2 linked regions of the Homo sapiens genome follow. The protein of the gene in region 1 purifies or fractionates together with the protein of each later gene. This does not show direct contact. Each region holds a gene or a part of one and is shown on either strand. Other genes may lie near its edges. The genes, in order: EPSTI1 and SNTG2.

Region 1 (9,294 bases):
CCCCCCGCCCGGCCAGCCGCCCCGTCCGGGAGGTGAGGGGCGCCTCCGCCCGGCCACCACCCCGTCTGGGAGGTGTGCCCAACAGCTCATTGAGAACGGGCCAGGATGACAATGGCGGCTTTGTGGAATAGAAAGGCGGGAAAGGTGGGGAAAAGATTGAGAAATCGGATGGTTGCCGTGTCTGTGTAGAAAGAAGTAGACATGGGAGACTTTTCATTTTGTTCTGCACTAAGAAAAATTCCTCTGCCTTGGGAATCCTGTTGATCTGTGACCTTACCCCCAACCCTGTGCTCCCTGAAACATGTGCTGTGTCCACTCAGGGTTAAATGGATTAAGGGCGGTGCAAGATGTGCTTTGTTAAACAGATGCTTGAAGGCAGCATGCTCGTTAAGAGTCATCACCAATCCCTAATCTCAAGTAATCAGGGACACAAACACTGCGGAAGGCCGCAGGGTCCTCTGCCTAGGAAAACCAGAGACCTTTGTTCACTTGTTTATCTGCTGACCTTCCCTCCACTATTGTCCCATGACCCTGCCAAATCCCCCTCTGTGAGAAACACCCAAGAATTATCAATAAAAAAATAAATTAAAAAAAAAAAAAAAAAAAAAAGAAAATCAGCTGGAGACCTCAACCTGCATTTTTAAGAGTCTGAGGGTCTTATTGGATTCATGCCTAGAACAGTTAGAGCCTAAAGGTATAAGGCTGTTGTCCATTGGCCACTGAGATGAGTCCTCAAGAAGAGGTAGCTACATTACAAATGGCCCACATTCACAGTTTATGAAAAGAAAGAATGCACAAGTATTTCCTGTACTTTTAATGTGATTCTCATGAAAGAGAATGCCAACCTAAAGCCATCTAAAGGGACTTGCCTATGAGGGCCATGTCAAGAACAATGGAACCCTAAAAGGAGTCTACCAAGAGCCAACAGTGAGGCCAAGCCCTGCCGACAGGAGAGGAAATCGTCTGTATCAGGGAAATCCAGGTGGGAGATGGGTAGCAGAGAGTGGGGGATGCTGAAAAACTCGAAGATTCCCAGGAAGAAGAACGAGCAGTCAGTGTAAACCTAGGCTCAAAGAAACAAGGATCACTGCATTACGAACCCCGAACTCTCTTATCTCCCTCCACTTCCCCCTTCAATCCCAGAAAGGTCAGAATCTGGGAACAGAGCCATGAATAGAGAAAAGTCCAGCCACACCCTGTTCTACTTGCTGGATTCCTACCTGAAACAGGCCTGGGTTAGAGCAGGGGAGAAGCTCTCATCTCCATTAGTAACAGAATTTTGATCAGTACCTAAGACTGAACATTAATTACTGAAATGAGACTGTTTTAGGCCTAGAATTAGCTAGGTCACTCTACTGTTTGAAAGAGACCAAAAAGCTTTAATTTCTTACATCATCCAAAAAGCCTGAGAAAGACTGTTCTCACATAGCCAATCTCAGGGGCCAAGCTAGGAAAGATTAAAGCTGTTTTCTGATTGTACCCTTCGAGTCTGGCTCATTTGCACAAAGGAGGCACTTGAGATTAGCCCTTTTCACGAAATACAGTGGGATGATGATAATATTACTATTACTTCCTCCCATTAAATAATTTCCAAATTAGATTATTTTTACCTATGTTCTTGGTGGGGGGGCAGGGTGTGGGGAGGGAACTTCTCTAAAACTATCACAACCGTAAGTGGCCCCTGACACAAGACATGCTTGTATTAACTAAATCTGTGGACACTGTGTGTCCAACCCTTTAAATTTTCGGCTGCTGATAGAAGAGAAAAAGCAAAGAAAAGATGTGAATGATTCCCATTAGGTGGCATCCCTTCTGAATGATTCAAACACCGGCAAAGGCGGCCCAGACAATTCATCACACTGGCAGCACCTGCTCCAGAGGCCCAGAGGTCTCTATCTGTAGAATAAAAACACAGGTGATGTTTCTCTTATACCCACCACCGGGTTTCCAGCTCACTCTCATCTCCCTCTTGGAACTGACTCTCCACTCCTTTTCTTCAGATTAACATTTAACTGCCATGATTAATATGCTTGTGCCAGCATTTACTCCCATCCTGACTAGTGCTATGACAGGGCATATGCAGCGCCCCAGGTAAGCTTTTTCAGAGTCAATCATCTAAGAGGCTCTAAATTATTTGGCAATTAAGCCATCACTGTGTTCCCATAGAACTCTGGCATTACAGGTTTGCTACTTGCAGAAAATCAGAAAAAAAAAAAAATACACACACACACACACACACACACACACACACAATTAAATGCATTCCACCCAAGCAGCACAATGACCAAACAAACTACAATGGACATTCACAGACAGACATATGCAAGCTGCTTACAGGATCCATAGGTGGCCCCGCCCTCCCTCATTCCGGCAGCGGCTGTGCTTGCTTACCTAGCCGTCTGGGCACCAGGTGAACCGGTTTAGCTCTGTTCTGCTCCTTCCACTTCTCCAGGTTGGCCAGCTCCTGCTCCGCAACTAAGCCAGGCGAGAAATATCAAATCGTCAATTATTAGACTTCTAAAAGAAAACCAGTCCCTTCAAAGCATAAGAAACAACTATTAGAAGGCAATTAACTATATGTGAGCATGAGTGAACAAGGCTTCCAGGTTAGAAACACAATATTCAGCCCTGACCCGTACAGGTCATCCTGGGCCCGGCCCTGTGGCACATTCTCACCAAGAGTCAGCACAGAGGGTTCGAATTTGAAAAACCACCTGGGCTCCTACTAAAAGAAGTATAGATTTTCCTACCATTCTGGCATTTTTAAAACTCTATATCAAGTTAATTTTTAAAGTTACCTATAGAAAATGTGTGCAAAACTAGAATATTTTCACGTCAATAAGAACTTTCCACACATAGGTAAACATATCCCCAGAGAATTCTGATGCCCATACTCGCTTTATCTTCAATGCTCCCAAGCTTACTGCGACTCTAGGGAATGAGGGCTCGGTGCTACAGGTGGAGACCCTTGCTCTGGTTTCAGGCACTCCAGACCACTGTGCAGAGTCGGCTTCCTGGGGAGCAGGGCTCATTTCCTAAATGTTCACTCTGCACGACAGCAGGGGGCGCCAGAGAGAAATTAGTTCTGTCACTCCAGCGCCTCCCCTTATCTCCTCATGAGACCTGTTTCAAATGTCCATTACTAGAAAAACAAATTCTGAAACATTTCGAAATCCAGACCACATTGAGACTTAATCTCCTATTAAGTATTTAAATCAAAAGCTTGTAAGATACCAGAACTGCTGGCAGTTCCCATAGTCCCTGCATGGCTGTGATTGTCATATTCTGCACTGACCCGCTGTCCCACCCGGAGCTACATGTCCGGTGGAGACTCTTTAGAGAGCTTTTTCCCTTTTGTGCCTTTCTGTCCATCATTAGTCATGAAGTTAAATTTCCTACCAATCATGTAATAAAGGAGACCATCGAATTTCAGCATAGCCCCACAGCTGGACTTGAGCAAGCCTACAATTTCTTTGTGAACTAAATGAACTTTAGTTCTCTTCCACCTCTAAAGGATAATGCTATAACTTTAAATGGCAGCATTTATATTTACTGTACATCAATTAAACATGTTATGTACGCATTAAGTACAGAGAGCACAAAAACGAGTAAGATGTGGTCCCTACCCTCAAGGAGGTTTATTGGCAATAAGTGTAAAGTTGTTCAAGCCAACAGAAATCCAGGATCTACCATCATGTCATGAGTTCTGTTACTAACGTAGAGAAACAAACTTAGAAGTGTTAATAGTAGAATATTTTTAAAGGTATAATCAAAACTAAAAAAAACAAAAAACCTTGATGAGATTTGGTGAGTCTATATAAATGAGAAAATAAAAATACTTCACACCAAAACAAACCAATTGTAAAAAGAGAGAAGCATTCTGAATGTTAAATGAATGACTATACATACTTCTTTGTATCTCATTTCTCCGGTTTATATTTGGTGCTATCAAGGTGTATGCACTTGTGCTAAAAGGAAGAGAAAAAAAAATGCTTATTACCATGAGAAACTACCAATGCATATAAGCCACCAGATATTTTTCCTTCTATTATACTGTATTTATGATCATTACCATCAAATAGGCACTATGAAAGATAATCTTCTTAAGACCCTGATCTGTTCTCTGGGACCTCACAATCTTGATGTCAAAGTAAAACAAAGGACATGGCCAAATATGAAAATATAAAGCATTCGATGAGTGACAAGTGACTAGTTGGTGTACTGTCCTTGTAGGGCTCCACCGTTCCTCTAGGTGGTGCTTGTGAGTAAATTCCTTTAAGATGGCTTTAGATTGGCATTCTCTTCTGTGTGACCACACCGGGGTACAGGAAACATTGGTACATTTTCTGTTCCCACAGACTGATCCTAGAGGCCATTTGCAATGCAGCCACCTCCTCTTGATGATCTGAGTAACTAACTGGCTTTTAGGCTTTGACTTTTCTAGGCCTATGTCCACTGGTCTCTTCTTCTCCTAGGGACACAGGTTGAGCATAATCAGGGGCTCGGAGAAGCAAGGAGTCATTTCAACCAGGCGGATCAGGGAAGACTTTTTAAGAAAAATATTCACCTCTGTGACACTAGGAAGCTGTTAAAATATTGTGAGCTTTTGAGGGCAGAGAGTGTGCTTGATTGATGTGTATTCCAAGCCCCTGGCACAGTGTCTGGCACAAAGACATTGGCTGCTTGATAAATGTGGGCTGAATTAAAACAAAATGATGCTACAGACCCAGCCTGTGAGTCTGTGTGGGGGTGGCTCTTTTTTGAGATGATGCACGTGATCCCACAAGAACATGAATACTCCATTAAGCAATAATATAGCACAGCAACAGACTGCAGCATACATGTAGGTACAGTTTTAAGAGAAATGCTGTGGATAAACACAACCAGCTTCTAACTGTAGGATTTAAGAGGGAGGGAAAAAACCCCACCCAGATACTCTTGGAAGTCTCTCTCTTCTACCTGAATACACAATTTCAAAGGGCAAATTAGCAAAGATTGAACTGTAGAGGCCAAAAGCACTGATCAACAGAAGCCATTTCCTTCCTTATCTCATTATTTTTCTAGCAGCTAGCCTTCAGCCAGCTTCAAACTGGGCTTTAATTTTAGACTTGTAAATGTGAGGTGTGCAACAGCCTTTGCATGCAAATGGGGCTGCTGGATGCCCAATTACTTAATGTATATCAGCAGACGTTGCATGTGTAGCCTAGCATGCATACAACGTTATGAATACAAAATTAGGAGACTGCCACTGGCAATTAATCCCTTGTCCATTGCACATTCTTTGTACACCCTAAGAAACATTTTTCACTTCTGAATTGCCAGTACTTTTTAGGAGCTTGGAAGCTACAATCCCGTGGGTAGTCCCTGGAAACTTGAATATGATGCAATGGTGAGCCATGCTACAGAGACTGAAAGCTGAAACATCAGATACGAGACGTAAATGCCAATCATGAAATTGCTACACAATCTTCAATGTCTGCTAACATTGTGGTATAGAGCTTCTCTCTATACCACAAATTTGACTATACTCCAGATCAGTAGTTCTCAGCCTTTATCGTGCATCATAATCACCAGGAGGGCTTGTCCGCGAGCTTGAGAGTTTCTAATTCAGTAGCCTGCGACTGGGTCAAATAACTTACATTTTTAACAAGTTCCAAGATGATGCTGTTCTTGATCTAGGTACCACACTTGGAAAACCACTACTATAGAGCAATCAAGCTATCTTAGAACATTTGGGATAAAAGAAAACTTAGGTATTCATAAATCACTGGTAAAGACACAGAGGTTGAATCTCAGGCCAAAGATCACCAGGTCAATTGAGCAACACTGATGAGACTCCAGTCTAAGACTTTTGACTTAGATCAGTTTTCTGTCTGCAGCTAACTTTTCAACTCAATGTGCAAAGCATAAAATATGACCATCCTTTAACTTTAGTCCCTTGATAGACTTCCAAACAATGCAACCTACTTAACTGGGCACTTATTATGGATTTATTGTATTAGGGGCTTGTAGAGAGTGAGGGGAGATTCCAGAACAGGGATACTAATCACTTTAACAGAACTTACACTTTAGTTAGGAACAAGTCAAGAAACCACAAAAGCACCCCACGAGAATATCCAACCACTCAACATGAGTTCTGGATGGGGAAAAAAACAAAAATAAATAAATAAAAAATAAATTAAAAAAGAATACCCAAACAAGTCTTAAAGTGGGAATGATGTAAGTACTCAGAGATCCAAAACAGTGGAGATTCATAGAGACCTCAGAAGAGTAAAAAACTGAATAGCACGAAATAAGAATAGTAAGTTGAGGCTTAAAGAATAGGATCTGAAATAGCAAAAGTGTTTCTTTGCCAGGACTTTGCCAAAAGCAGCTTCACAGAGAATTTTCCAAGTCCATGAGTCTCTCTTACGGAAATTTTGCAAAAGGTTTGGAGAGAAAAATCAACTCATTTGTAAAAGATTGTATTCTACAATATCTAATCTGGTTAAGTTTTTAAGTCCGACATCATACTAGAATCTTCCATCTTAAGAATAGGACTTCAGTCAATCTATGGCCAATGTGTGTAGCTTACAGGTACCTAATAGAGAAACATAAAATAAAGGGAAAGAATTAGCTCTGAATTTAGAGGGTTTTTACTGAAAGCATTTTAGCATAAACCCAGGCAGTGGTCCCAGTAATAAACGTTTTATGTAAATTTTATGTGAATTGCTCAGCAACCTTCTCAGCAATATTTTATTGACTGAAAATGCCAAATCTGAAACATGTTATAATAGTCCCAAGAAAGCATTGCCAAGTAAATGGTAAGGAACTTAGCTTCTATTTCTATTTCTTAATATAAGAAGAAGAGCTTAAGTCAAAGGATATGCTTTTTATTTTTTAATATCATGTGTCAGAGTGTAATGCCTTAGTAGATACAAATATTCATCCCTTCTTTCTTAGCTTTCTCTTGACATGAAGAGCAAGTATAATTTATTAATGTTTTCAGCCAATTAGTTTGTACCCACAGCAAAGGCCTTTGCTGTTTTAACCTATGTGCTATCTCTTCCAACAGCCTGACTCTCAAAGTTGCTAATCTAGACAAGCCCAACAACCAACATTTCGCATTCTTGTCATTTCCTGATTAAGCAACATTCAAGCCACTGAAATAAATATATATATTTGAAAATGAGTCTCCTTAATTACCTCATTGAAATTTAATGAAAGATCTCAATTTGTAAGATTATTTTCACTTTCCAACAGCGCACATCCGTGAGATATACTGAGGGAGAATATATGAAAGAACAGACAAGATAAAATGTTTTTCTGCACCATAAGAAACATAAAATAAAAAGATATTCAAGAAATGTTTGGCCAAGCGCGGTGGCTCATGCCTGTAATCTCAGCACTTTGGGGGGCTGAGGCGGGTGGATCACTTGAGGTCAGGAGTTCAAGACCAGCCTGGCCAACATGGTAAAACCCTGTCTCTACTAAAAATACAAAAATTAGCCGGGTGTGATAGCACACGCCTGTAATCCCAGCTACTCGGGATGCTGAGGCAGGAGAATCGCTTGATCCCAGGGGGCAGAGGTTGCAGTGAGCTGCGATCATGCCACTGCACTCCAGCCTGGCCGATAACAGTGAAACTCTGTCTCAAAAAAAAAGAAAAAGAAAAAGAAAAGAAATGTTTTCCTGGCCGGGCGCGGTGGCTCACGCCTGTAATCCCAGCACTTTGGGAGGCCAGGGCGGGCGGATCACGAGGTCAGGAGATTGAGACCATCCTGGCTAACACGGTGAAACCCCGTCTCTACTAAAAATACAAAAAAAATTAGCCGGGCGTGGTGGTGGGCGCCTATAGTTCCAGCTACTTGGGAGGCTGAGGCAGGAGAATGGCGTGAACCAGGGAGGCGGAGCTTGCAGTGAGCCGAGATTGCGCCACTGCACTCCCGCCTGGGCGACAGAGCAAGACTCCGTCTCAAAAAAAAAAAAAAAAGTTTTCCTTGCGAGGTCTCTCGAGTTACACAACTGCATCTTGTGTGTACATTCTTGCACAATTTTTATAACTTTTTATCAATAAGTACTCTGAAAAAATGTTATGTTGAAGTTATCAAAAATATCTTGGCTGGCTAAAAGTATTACATAACAATATCCCCTGGTGTGTACAAACTGCACCAGATGTAATTTAAATTTGTAATTAGGAGCAACACTGGTTTGACAGAAAAAGAAATGCAGTTAAGAGCAAAAGTTCGGAAAGAGAAAATTAAGTGAAAAACATAATTTCAAGCAGAATAGTAGACATGTAAAGTCTACAGTCCTGCAAAAAGTTGAAGTTTTCATAGTTCAAGAAAATCTTATCCTTGGGTATATATAAATTGAAAAAAAAAGACTTAGAGATAATCAAAGGCATTTCGATACTTATCTTTCCAGATAAGACATTCCATATTGGTTTTTGTTACATGACCTTCAATGTAAGAATCAGAAACTTACTGTTTTCAGTCAACATTGAGTCAAAACTTTTGAGGCATTTAGGTTTCCAAAAGTTTGTTCATACATAGATCAAATTCCCAAGAATAATAGAAAATGACAAGACCAGGCCGAGCGAATTACCCTTGACCCCTAAGCCTATATTATACCACCCCTGATCAAGTATTCCACATCTCCAGTGTGGAAACATTTATGAATTGTCTTTGGCCTCAGAAACTACAGAGGCTAAGATACTGTCTGCACACCCAAGAAGCTGATGTGTAATTGATTAGTTCTTTCATCAGCACAACTCATTGCCTCTGTTAGACGGCTGAATACAGACACAGTGGGTAAAGACAGATAAATAAGCAGGAAATCATCGGGGCCTTTGTTTATAGGATGCCTTTAAGAAAATGAGAGGCATACACACCCAGGATCCCCATGGCTTACTGAGATATTGTAAATTCATGCAAACTAGAAAAAAAGTGCTGCTTCTTTCAGGTGGAGGTAATCCCACACTAAGATACATGGTTTGGTATGTATCTCAGCCACAAATCACACCTTAGCTGGGCAAGTGTGTGTAGTCACCAATCTGCACAACCATATAGAATCGACCTGAGATGATGTATTTCTTCACTTAAACACACACACACACATAAGTAAAAGCCACACAAAAAAAAGTTAGCAAGAAGGAGTCACACTAAAGATATAAAGAGTGTATATGAAGTACAATATTGTAGAGACTCACCATCTTTAAGAGGCCAAAAACCAATGATGGGACCATCGTTGAGATGGAGACCAACTGGTAGGTATACTTACAAAATGTCTTGTAACTACTTCCTCAGTAAAAAT
Region 2 (9,294 bases), on another chromosome or scaffold:
AAGCCTCAGGAGTGAATTTGTTAAAATTACAACACCAGAGAAGGGTTTGGTCAGGGTTATCAGGTCCAGGGTTTGCCTTTGGCTTTTTGCTTTGTCAAACAAGGCCACCAAGATCGATGTGAAATACACAAGGCTTAATATGTGGGAGAATTTCACTGAGATGAAGCAAAAACAAGGCCGCCCACTGCCTCTGAGGTCTCTGGAAGATGCTCCTTCAATGTGCTCCATAGCGGAAACTGTGCTCCCTACAGGTTTTTACATTTCTCTGAACCATTATTTCATCATTCTCTCTTGTCAGTTGATGATAAGGAGGATTAAGGGGTGGGGAGAGGGTGAAGGATAGCATTTGGAGATATACTTAATGTTAAATGATGAGTTACTGGGTGCAGCGCACCACATGGTACATGTATACATATGTAACTAACCTGCACGTTGTGCACATGTACCCTGAAACTTAAAGTATAATAATAATAATAAAAAAAAAAGAAAATGCTTTCCTCTCCGGAGCAGTGCTCTTTCCAACATGAGGAGTAATTCCAGTATAGCTACAAAAGTCAGCATTTCTCTGAAACACGTAAAGGCCAAGTCCATAAATGCTGCCCATTCCCACGTATGCTCTCCACTTGCGGACATCACTGTTTAGCATCAAGGATCTGTCTGCAAGGTGACAACCCCTCTGAGGGTCGGGAGAGGACGGCTGTCCTCATGACGAACAAACTGAGAAACAGGGAAGAAGCAGCCAACACTGAGAAATACCAGAAGCTGCGGCTCCTCCTAAGATCTCGGAAGAGTCTCAGCTTTGCCATAAAGAGGATCTCAGGAAACATTTTGCTAATTTTGCGTGTGTGAATAAGATGCAATTTCAAAATGGTAAATTATTCATAGAGATCATGTCAAAACTTTGGCCCACTGTCCCACCAGCCTTGATAAAGGCTGTTTCCTGTGTGAACCATAGAGAGATATGTACTTTGTGGAAAAGTTTCAGAACTTCTGTTTCAAAAACACATAGTAGGGAAATGATATTTTATGTATAAGAATATGAAATGAATCCTATATTAATTTGAAGAATTTATAGAAATATTAATCATAAAATATCTATGTAAACAAAAATAGTTGATGGTAATTTTAGAATAATATTAAAAGAGATAAAAGTTAGAAGAACCATTTATTCTTAGTGTTTCTTTTCTAATGTAGAAATGTTGACTAGAGAGGTTTAATTTAAAACACAGCCCTATTTTCCCATTGTTTTAGTAAATATTTCATAGGCAGAGGACCTGCTCTTCTCAAGTCCTCCATCGTGAATTCAAATATTCTTGCTAAGCACTATTTAAAGTCTTTTGTGCGCTATTTAAAGCAAAGCGAACATGTTTTTCTCAGTTTTCTTAACTTGAGGCTATGATGCATGCTTCCTTACGCCCCTAAGAGATGTAACCAGAAAATGAATGAACTATAAATAACATACTCCCTTACATTACAAGTTAAATCATAAGTTTATTATAAAGGAAACAGAAGAATAACACAGTGGCTTAAAAACTGATTTGGCTGATATTGAAACAGCTTGATTACCATAGAGTTTTCCTAAGTACTCATAGACGTGGGAAGTGAGCAGAAAATCAGGCCTGAGGGTGGCTACAAAGGTAGCTATCCTGAATCCAGGACAACGTTAAGGGCTCTGGGCTCCAGGTGAACAAACTGCCTGGATTTGGGGATGACAGGATCCTACCCACTGGCAATAACACCCACTGGGCCAAAGCCCTCCTGAGAATGAAGCTTTCCTAGTAAGGATTTTATTTAAGAAAATAATATAATGCTTAAAATTTCAAATTACACAGGTGTGTCATCTCAAAGCCCTTCTCAGTTTAAACAATCATATCTAAATCATCATTTAAATCACGATTCTTTACAAAACATAACTGCCAATAGAGAAATAATCTATACACAGGAGATCAGAATGACCTATGCTATTCCCACAGAAAGAGCAGTTTTATAGAATTAACAGGCAGGGCAGAGACCACCAAATGCAGTCTGAAATGTGCTAATGTTTTCCTATCAACATTTTCAAATCAAATTTCAAAAAACCAGAGACTGCTTTTCGAGATGTGTTACATCATGAATCAGAAAATACAAACCCTACCTGATGTGTTACATCATGAAGCAGAAAATACAAACCCTACCTGGTCGGAAGGAGAGCAGCATTTGTTCGCCATCTTCATCTGTGGAGAGAAGGCAGAAGAGTCAGGGCCACAGCCACCAACACCAGGATGGCTCACCTGAGTGACAGCTGGAAGTCATCAGCCACGCTCTGTCCTGGGAAACAGGCCTCTTTAATGACATATTTCCTATCTGAAGACCTAGCCAGAGTCAATACAAACATGGCAGCAGTAGAAAACAACTTTACTAGCAGGCTTCAATTCCTCTTTTTCAAATATCAGCATTTATGTAAGTGAAGTTACACTTCAAGAGCAGGTGCTTAAATTCCAATATCTGAGAAAAGTGAGGAAATGATTTCTGCTCTACATAACCTTGTGAGAGTCAGTATTACTGTGATGGTAATTACGGTGATCACAGTTGATATTCTTTCTTTTATTTAGTTCTCCCAATGACCTATGGAGGTAGATGTTGTTTTCCAAAATTTCACCGAGGAAGTGGAGGTGCAGAATCATAATGTTCCCACAGCCCACAGCCACACAGCCGGGAGGCAGCTCAGAGTCCACATTTCTGTTCTGAAATATTGGGGTGTCTGACTTCTCTGCCCTGCCTATGAGGGCTGATTTGTGAAATGACAGAACTGAAGGGCGCTCCTCGTCACAAACATTTCTGCAAATATAAGTCAAGCACCATCCTTTCTTCCCTATTTATTGAGATAACTTTGGAATTTAAAGTGTTGCGTTTGAAAACTACAATGTTAGGAAGGTCCTGGTACTTCCTTCTCTGCTTGCAGAAAGGAAGCCCCTGAGGTCTTCACAGGAGAAATGTCACACATTGCTGCTTCCCCCAGTGTTAGGTTAACTTCTGTTTTGCAGCCACAGGAAGAAGGGAGGTTGCAAGGGAGACGTGAGGTGGTGGGCAGGGCAGGGGCAGGGCGGGTGCATCTGCAGGGCCGCAGGGTGGGCCACGCCTGGCCAGTCTGCAAGCTGGACCCAGCCTCTGCAGCCTCCAGGCTGCGAAGGAACAGAGCAGGGATCGAAGTGCAATTACAGGGCAACTCAGCTTAGAGGGAGCAAGGGCAGCAAGGCTGGTCCAGGGCCGCCTCCAGGCACGGCCAGTCCTGCCACAGTTGCCAGGGCTGCGGCCACGGCTCCATGTCCGAGTCCAGGCACCCATCACTCCAGGCAACGCCCGTGTCATCAAGTCTTCGTTCCCACCCCATCTCTTTTCATTTCTTTAATTTTTAAAATCCTGTTGACTTTTAATATCAAACATCACTTAAGGGGACAGAATACTTTTTCGTTTCTGGGGGACTGCAGTACAAATTTGAGAAGTAATGTTTTTGCTCAATTATGCCTTTTTCTAAATCTTCATAATGTTTGGGAGAATTATACTTTTAACTCAATTAGGTTTCCCCAACTCAAAATGTCACACTGTATCAATGCATTTGGGTAAAATATAAAATTATGACATATAACTATTTCTGTATATGTGTGTGGAGAGAAAGAGAGAGGAAGGGAGGGAGAGAGACAGAGGCAGACAGAGGGGAGGAGGAAGACAAAACCAGATGGGAAATTCTCAGCTGTTAGACATTGCCTTACTCTTTGATTTGGAAACATTCTGATGGCTTCATTTTTAATGTTTTTAGACATAGATTTGACACATTGAAACAAGTACATGATTTTCTGTTTCGGGTTAATCATAAATCATCAGAAACATGATGTCTCCATTATTTTTCATGCACGAATGAGCATCAGCAGAGACTCAGAAACACCGTGTGCTCACGTTCTGAAGTGTCAGCTCCCTGATGTTGGCTGAGACCGCCCGCAGCCAGTCGGTGCCATCCTGGGCTGTGTAAAACCGGAGGATCCCAGAGCTGACTCCGTCCAGGGCGAGCACCTCGAACGCATTCCACCTGGGGAGGGAGAGAGCTGTCCAGGAGGCCCCGCAGCGACGGGAGCGGGCCTGCCTCCGTGAGTTTCGAGGCTGATGCTCAGCAGGGCTCTACCCTGGACCCAGGACATGGGGCAACTGCACCACTTCCTCAGGCGCCTCAGTACAGTCAGCAGGCTCGCTGAGACCAAGACCAAACCCCGAATTCCCTTGGTAACAGGAGCTACTTCTAATTCGATGAAACATGAAAAGCACTTTGTCAAGGAAAGAACAGTGCTCCTGAAATTCTGGAGTTATTGTCTGCAGGATTCTTACTGGTTATTCTTTCGAAGACCCTTTGGATGGAGCACTTAAAGCTCCTGATGGGGTGAGGCTGGAGCAGCCCAGCACCCTCTGCACTCAGCATCCACCCTTCTCTAGGACCACCTGTGTGCTTCTGATTGACAGGGGAGCTTTGGGAGAACATAGTCCCCTTCCACTGCTCCATGACACTCCACTTGCTGAGAACTCAATCATGGCAAAGTATTAACAACCAACCGTCTCAAATTCAGTAGTTCTTCCCTGTCATGCAATATTTTTTAAAAACATACTTTACATATGCCTATTTGCAAAAGAGAAATGTCATGTACACTTTTATAGACTTTTTCTTAAGAAAATAGTGCATATTGGCCGGGCGCAGTGGCTCACGCCTATAATCACAGGACGTTGGAAGACTGAGGTAGGTGGATCACTTGAGGTCAGGAGTTCGAAATCAGCCTGGCCAACATGGTGAAGTCCCATCTCTACGAAAAATACAAAAATTAGCCGGGCATGGTGGCACACACCTGTAGCTCCAGCTACTCGGAAGGCTACGGCAGGAGAATCTCCTGAACCCAGGAGGCAGAGGTTGCAGTGAGCCGAGATCACACCACTGCACTCCAGCCTGGGCAACAGAGTGAGACCCTATCTGAAAAAAAAAAGAAAAAAAGAAAACAATGCATATTAATGTATATGACTCATAATACCTCCATGGTCTCAAGCAGCTAACTGAAGATAAAATACAGAACAAAGCAAACATATTTTTTTAAAAAAATAAGTCATCACTAAGCTATGTTCTAATAATCTTTCAAATGTGAGTGTCATCGCTGCTTTCTTAGGCAAGGTGGGGTGTGTAGGAGAAGGGGTAGGAAACAGAGATGGTATAACACAGTTCTGCATATTTTTGAGCCAAATCTATCAGACCAGAGTTTGCTATTTTAAAAGTCATTCTTTTAAAAAGCTGACATCCCTGTCTAGGGGTCATTCTCATTCTAATTAGTGTTTCTTGAATCAGAATGTGAGGTTTATCTACTTGTGGCTGATATTCTGCCTGATGGCGATGAACAAGGTACTCTTGACTTGGCAGGAGGACAGAGGTGAAGGTGGAGGTGACTGTGTGGAGCCGGAGAGGGGAAGAAGCCAGAGGAAGCAGGTCCCCTGCATGGGGAGGGCAGGCAGCTCTGCCTCCACCTTCGCACAGCCCTTTCTGATCACCTTTCCTGGTCCTCCTGGGGAGCACCTGTCCCTCAGGATCCATCGCTTCCCGTGGGGCCTTTGGTCCTGGATGTCTGCTATAATAAATTAATTTTTACACTTCAAAATGCTGGGAGACTATTTTAGGCAGATTGTGTAATATTCCACATGAATTAGGTGCTTATTAAATATTGACAGACTTATATCTACACTTTTGTCCAAGTATCCATTAATTCTTATTAAAGTAAGTGCTAACTAAAAATGGGTTCATTGCCATCATTTCTCATTTGTTCATGTTAACTGGTGCGACATATACAAAGCAAGGCTGACCTTAATCTAGTGGTTAATAAACAGCTGGGTCAAGTAGATTATTGCGGACGACAGCCAAGTTCCCTGGCTCCCCACATGAAGAGGTCAGAGACTATTATTTTTAGGCATATTTTACATTGAGCTACAGGACACACACACACGCACACAACTCACCAGTGAACACCTCGATAAACAGTCATGTATTCCATACTCTTGGCCAACCAACTCTCAGACCAAAAACAGACTTTAGAAGAATCCTCAAAAGTTCCCTGTGTCCCATCCTCCAATTTTCCCCATCTCAGAGCTCTACGCTTTTATTCTTTCAGAAGAGCCTGTTCTTCTCCAAAGGCCTGGGGAGGAACAGGGGGTGGTGCCAGTGTGGGCCAGGGGCAGCTTTTCCTGGATCCAGCTAGACTAGGGGGCCTGCAGGGATCCTGGGGCAGCGTGGGGGTAAGGGTGCCTCCTCTCATGAATCGGGGGTGCCTCGTGGGGCCTGCAGGGACCTCAGGGCAGCGTGGGGCAGGGGTCCCCCCTCTCATGAATCGGGGGTGCCTGGTGGGGCCTGCAGGGACCTCAGGGCAGCGTGGGGCAGGGGCCCCCCTCTCATGAATAGGGTGTGCCTGGTGGGGCCTGCAGGGACCTCAGGGCAGCATGGGGTAGGGGCGCCCCCTCTCATGAATCGGGGGTGCCTGGTGGGGCCTGCAGGGACCTCAGGGCAGCGTGGGGCAGGGGTCCCCCCTCTCATGAATCGGGGGTGCCTGGTGGGGCCTGCAGGGACCTCAGGGCAGCGTGGGGCAGGGGCCCCCCTCTCATGAATAGGGTGTGCCTGGTGGGGCCTGCAGGGACCTCAGGGCAGCATGGGGTAGGGGCGCCCCCTCTCATGAATCGGGGGTGCCTGGTGGGGCCTGTAGGGACCTCAGGGCAGAGTGGGGTAGGGGCGCCCCCTCTCATGAATCGGGGGTGCCTGGTGGGGCCTGCAGGGACCTCAGGGCAGCATGGGGGCAGGGGTCCCCCCTCTCATGAATTGGGGGTCCCTGGTTGCGCGTGAGGGCGTGTGAAGGACACGCATGGTCACCGCTTGGCTCCAGCTCACATGTACTAACGACAGTGTCTTCTCAGGGAGTTGGCATTTCCTGATTCTCAGGGTTGGTGACGTATGCACCAAATGCATGGATGACTGAACACTGGGTGCTCTCAGCAGGGTCAGTACTGTGGTCATCCTCGTAAAGTCAGTGGTGAGAAGGAATCTGAGTCCAGAGTCCTAACTCTGCCTTTGGAGGTTTACACCATCATTGATGTAGCAGGAATAAGATGTGAGTAGAGACAGTGGACCCAGGCTCCATGAAGGACCCTTTATCGATGCTGTGGTCTTGAGAAAGATCATCAGCTTTGCCCCCTGAGGCAGTGAATGCACGTGGAGCCCCAGAGGCTCACGGACTCGCACGAGGGGCAGACGGCTGTGTCCTGCAATAAAAAGGAAGGCGTCTGCAGTCCAGGCACGTTTATGCCATAGCTTCATGAGGCAGGCTGGACATCTCACCTCTGAGCTGGGCTTTCCTTGTCCGTACGATGGGCTTCAAATGCCAACCGTACCACAAAATAGGAATACTGAGAGGAACAAATGGGATAACTGAAACAAAGTTATTTGTAAGCCCGTAAGTACCATATAAACATTATTAGTCTGTAATTTATCAAAGAAAGCAATAAAAATTAAGTATCAAATGAACAGAAACTGTGAAAGTTGTTGACATGAATGCTGATGGCAGATACTAACATGTTAATGAAACAGGGAAAGAAAGTTCACAGCGTGGCTCACTGTTGGTTCACTGTTTGGTTTATTGTTATAGAAGCCGGGTAACTAGTGTAAGTCACGCAATCTGCTTTCAGGCACGTCTGGATGCAAGATCAGGAGCCGCTTCTTCCAGGGCATTTCTGGGCCTTTGTTTCCTCCGAGTTTCACGGTTTCCTCCGAGTTTCCTCCGTGGCTCACAGTTGGAACCCGGCCTCTCTACCCGCCTCATGGTGGCCGCTCAGGCCTTTTAGGATGGTGTTCACGTGGCCAAGGTCATTATCGGAGCTAAAATTCACAGAGCATCTGCTGCTCAGGAGCTAACATGCTCTTTGATGGACACACATGAGATTGTAGGAAGCTGCTGTAAGCAAAGCCACACCAAGTGAAGGCAGAGCGCTTGGCACCCCGGGGTCCACCGAGAAGAAACCAAACCAGCTCCCAGACACTCGCCATCCATGGGGAAGTCAAGCACTGACTGTGTCGGCACTTTTGAAAAGTCTACCCTCCTCCCAGGGTTTCCTCGTGCCCTTAGAGAATTTTTCAATTCCAAAGAGAAAACTGAAAATAGACTTATACTCTAGAAAGTGAATCAATTCAGTTTTTGGCTAAGAGAAATAAATTTATTCCAATAACGTTCAAAGCACATGTCTTAACGTATTAGGACATTAAGGAATTGAAGTTACGTGCTCAGGTCTCCACCTCCTGTGGAGGACAGCCAGTCTGTTTAAGCCGTTCTTCCTGCGCTCTTGACTGTGGGCTCAGTGCCAGCCTCAACCCTGCACCCTGCGGCTCCTGCCGGGAAAAGCCCCACAGCCCAGCTCTCATGTGCCCGGTCACACTGCCTGCCTTCGCTGCGGTCTTCCTGTCCACATGCAGAAAGGCCTCCGAATCCCGCCCACACCGCTGGGAATCTTCCTGTCACAAAACACACCTCAACAGATTTGACCCTTTTTCAAATCATCTGTTTCAGCGGAAACCAATCACAGAGCATTAGCAGTTGTCATTAAAGCCCCAAACCGAGACCCCTGCTACATCCGCTACCAATGACCACTCTTCCAACCTTCTGCTTCCCTTGTGCTGTGGGATTCCAGTAACTATAAAATTTGACCCTAAAAACTGAGAATTCTTAATTGCTCGTCAAAGCTTCAATGCCGGAGAAAGTCAAAATGTGTAAATCGCCTTTTTAATAAGCTGTCCAGTTTTTAAAGAATAAATACATTGGAACGTACAAAATTTAACCAAGGAAGCTTTCATCCATAAATGATGGCTGGTGGCCTTCATTACAACCACAGCCTGTCACTCCCTGTCGGCTCTGGCCACCACCTCCCTCTGTGCCTGTGGTAACAGAGAGGAAAGGTGTGCATTGCACACATGCCTGTTTACTTTAAGCCTTCATGCTTTGGAAAATAAGGAGAGTGTGCATGTGTGTGTGTGTGCATGTGTGTGTATTTTAGCTCATGACTGAAAATTACGAGTACTCGAGACAAAAACAGAACGTGTATGTTTCAGAATTTGAAAAATCTTGAAATTTCGTTCACATATTTTATTTTAAAACTGTCTCTGTAGTATATTATTTTTTAGTACAATTTAGAAAAATATATTTTTTCTACTTCCCTGTCATGCAGTGGCATTTCTAAATAGTCCATATTAAATATTAATAA

What was found.
Region 2: the proteins of EPSTI1 (region 1) and SNTG2 purify together in Homo sapiens (affinity purification with mass spectrometry; 2 studies listed by BioGRID and IntAct, with this or other methods). This does not show direct contact.

Annotation. Positions count from the first base shown.
Region 1 is NC_000013.11:42,966,703-42,975,996, forward strand, and holds part of EPSTI1 (epithelial-stromal interaction protein 1), read right to left. Parts: exon of another isoform or gene 6,066-9,294; intron 6,044-6,065; exon of another isoform or gene 4,073-6,043; intron 3,970-4,072; exon of another isoform or gene 3,969-3,969; coding exon 3,910-3,968; exon of another isoform or gene 2,925-3,909; intron 2,476-2,924; coding exon 2,392-2,475; intron 1-2,391. UniProt on the Homo sapiens protein: Plays a role in M1 macrophage polarization and is required for the proper regulation of gene expression during M1 versus M2 macrophage differentiation.
Region 2 is NC_000002.12:1,232,657-1,241,950, reverse strand, and holds part of SNTG2 (gamma-2-syntrophin), read right to left. Parts: intron 4,064-9,294; coding exon 3,934-4,063; intron 2,214-3,933; coding exon 2,175-2,213; intron 1-2,174. UniProt on the Homo sapiens protein: Adapter protein that binds to and probably organizes the subcellular localization of a variety of proteins. May link various receptors to the actin cytoskeleton and the dystrophin glycoprotein complex.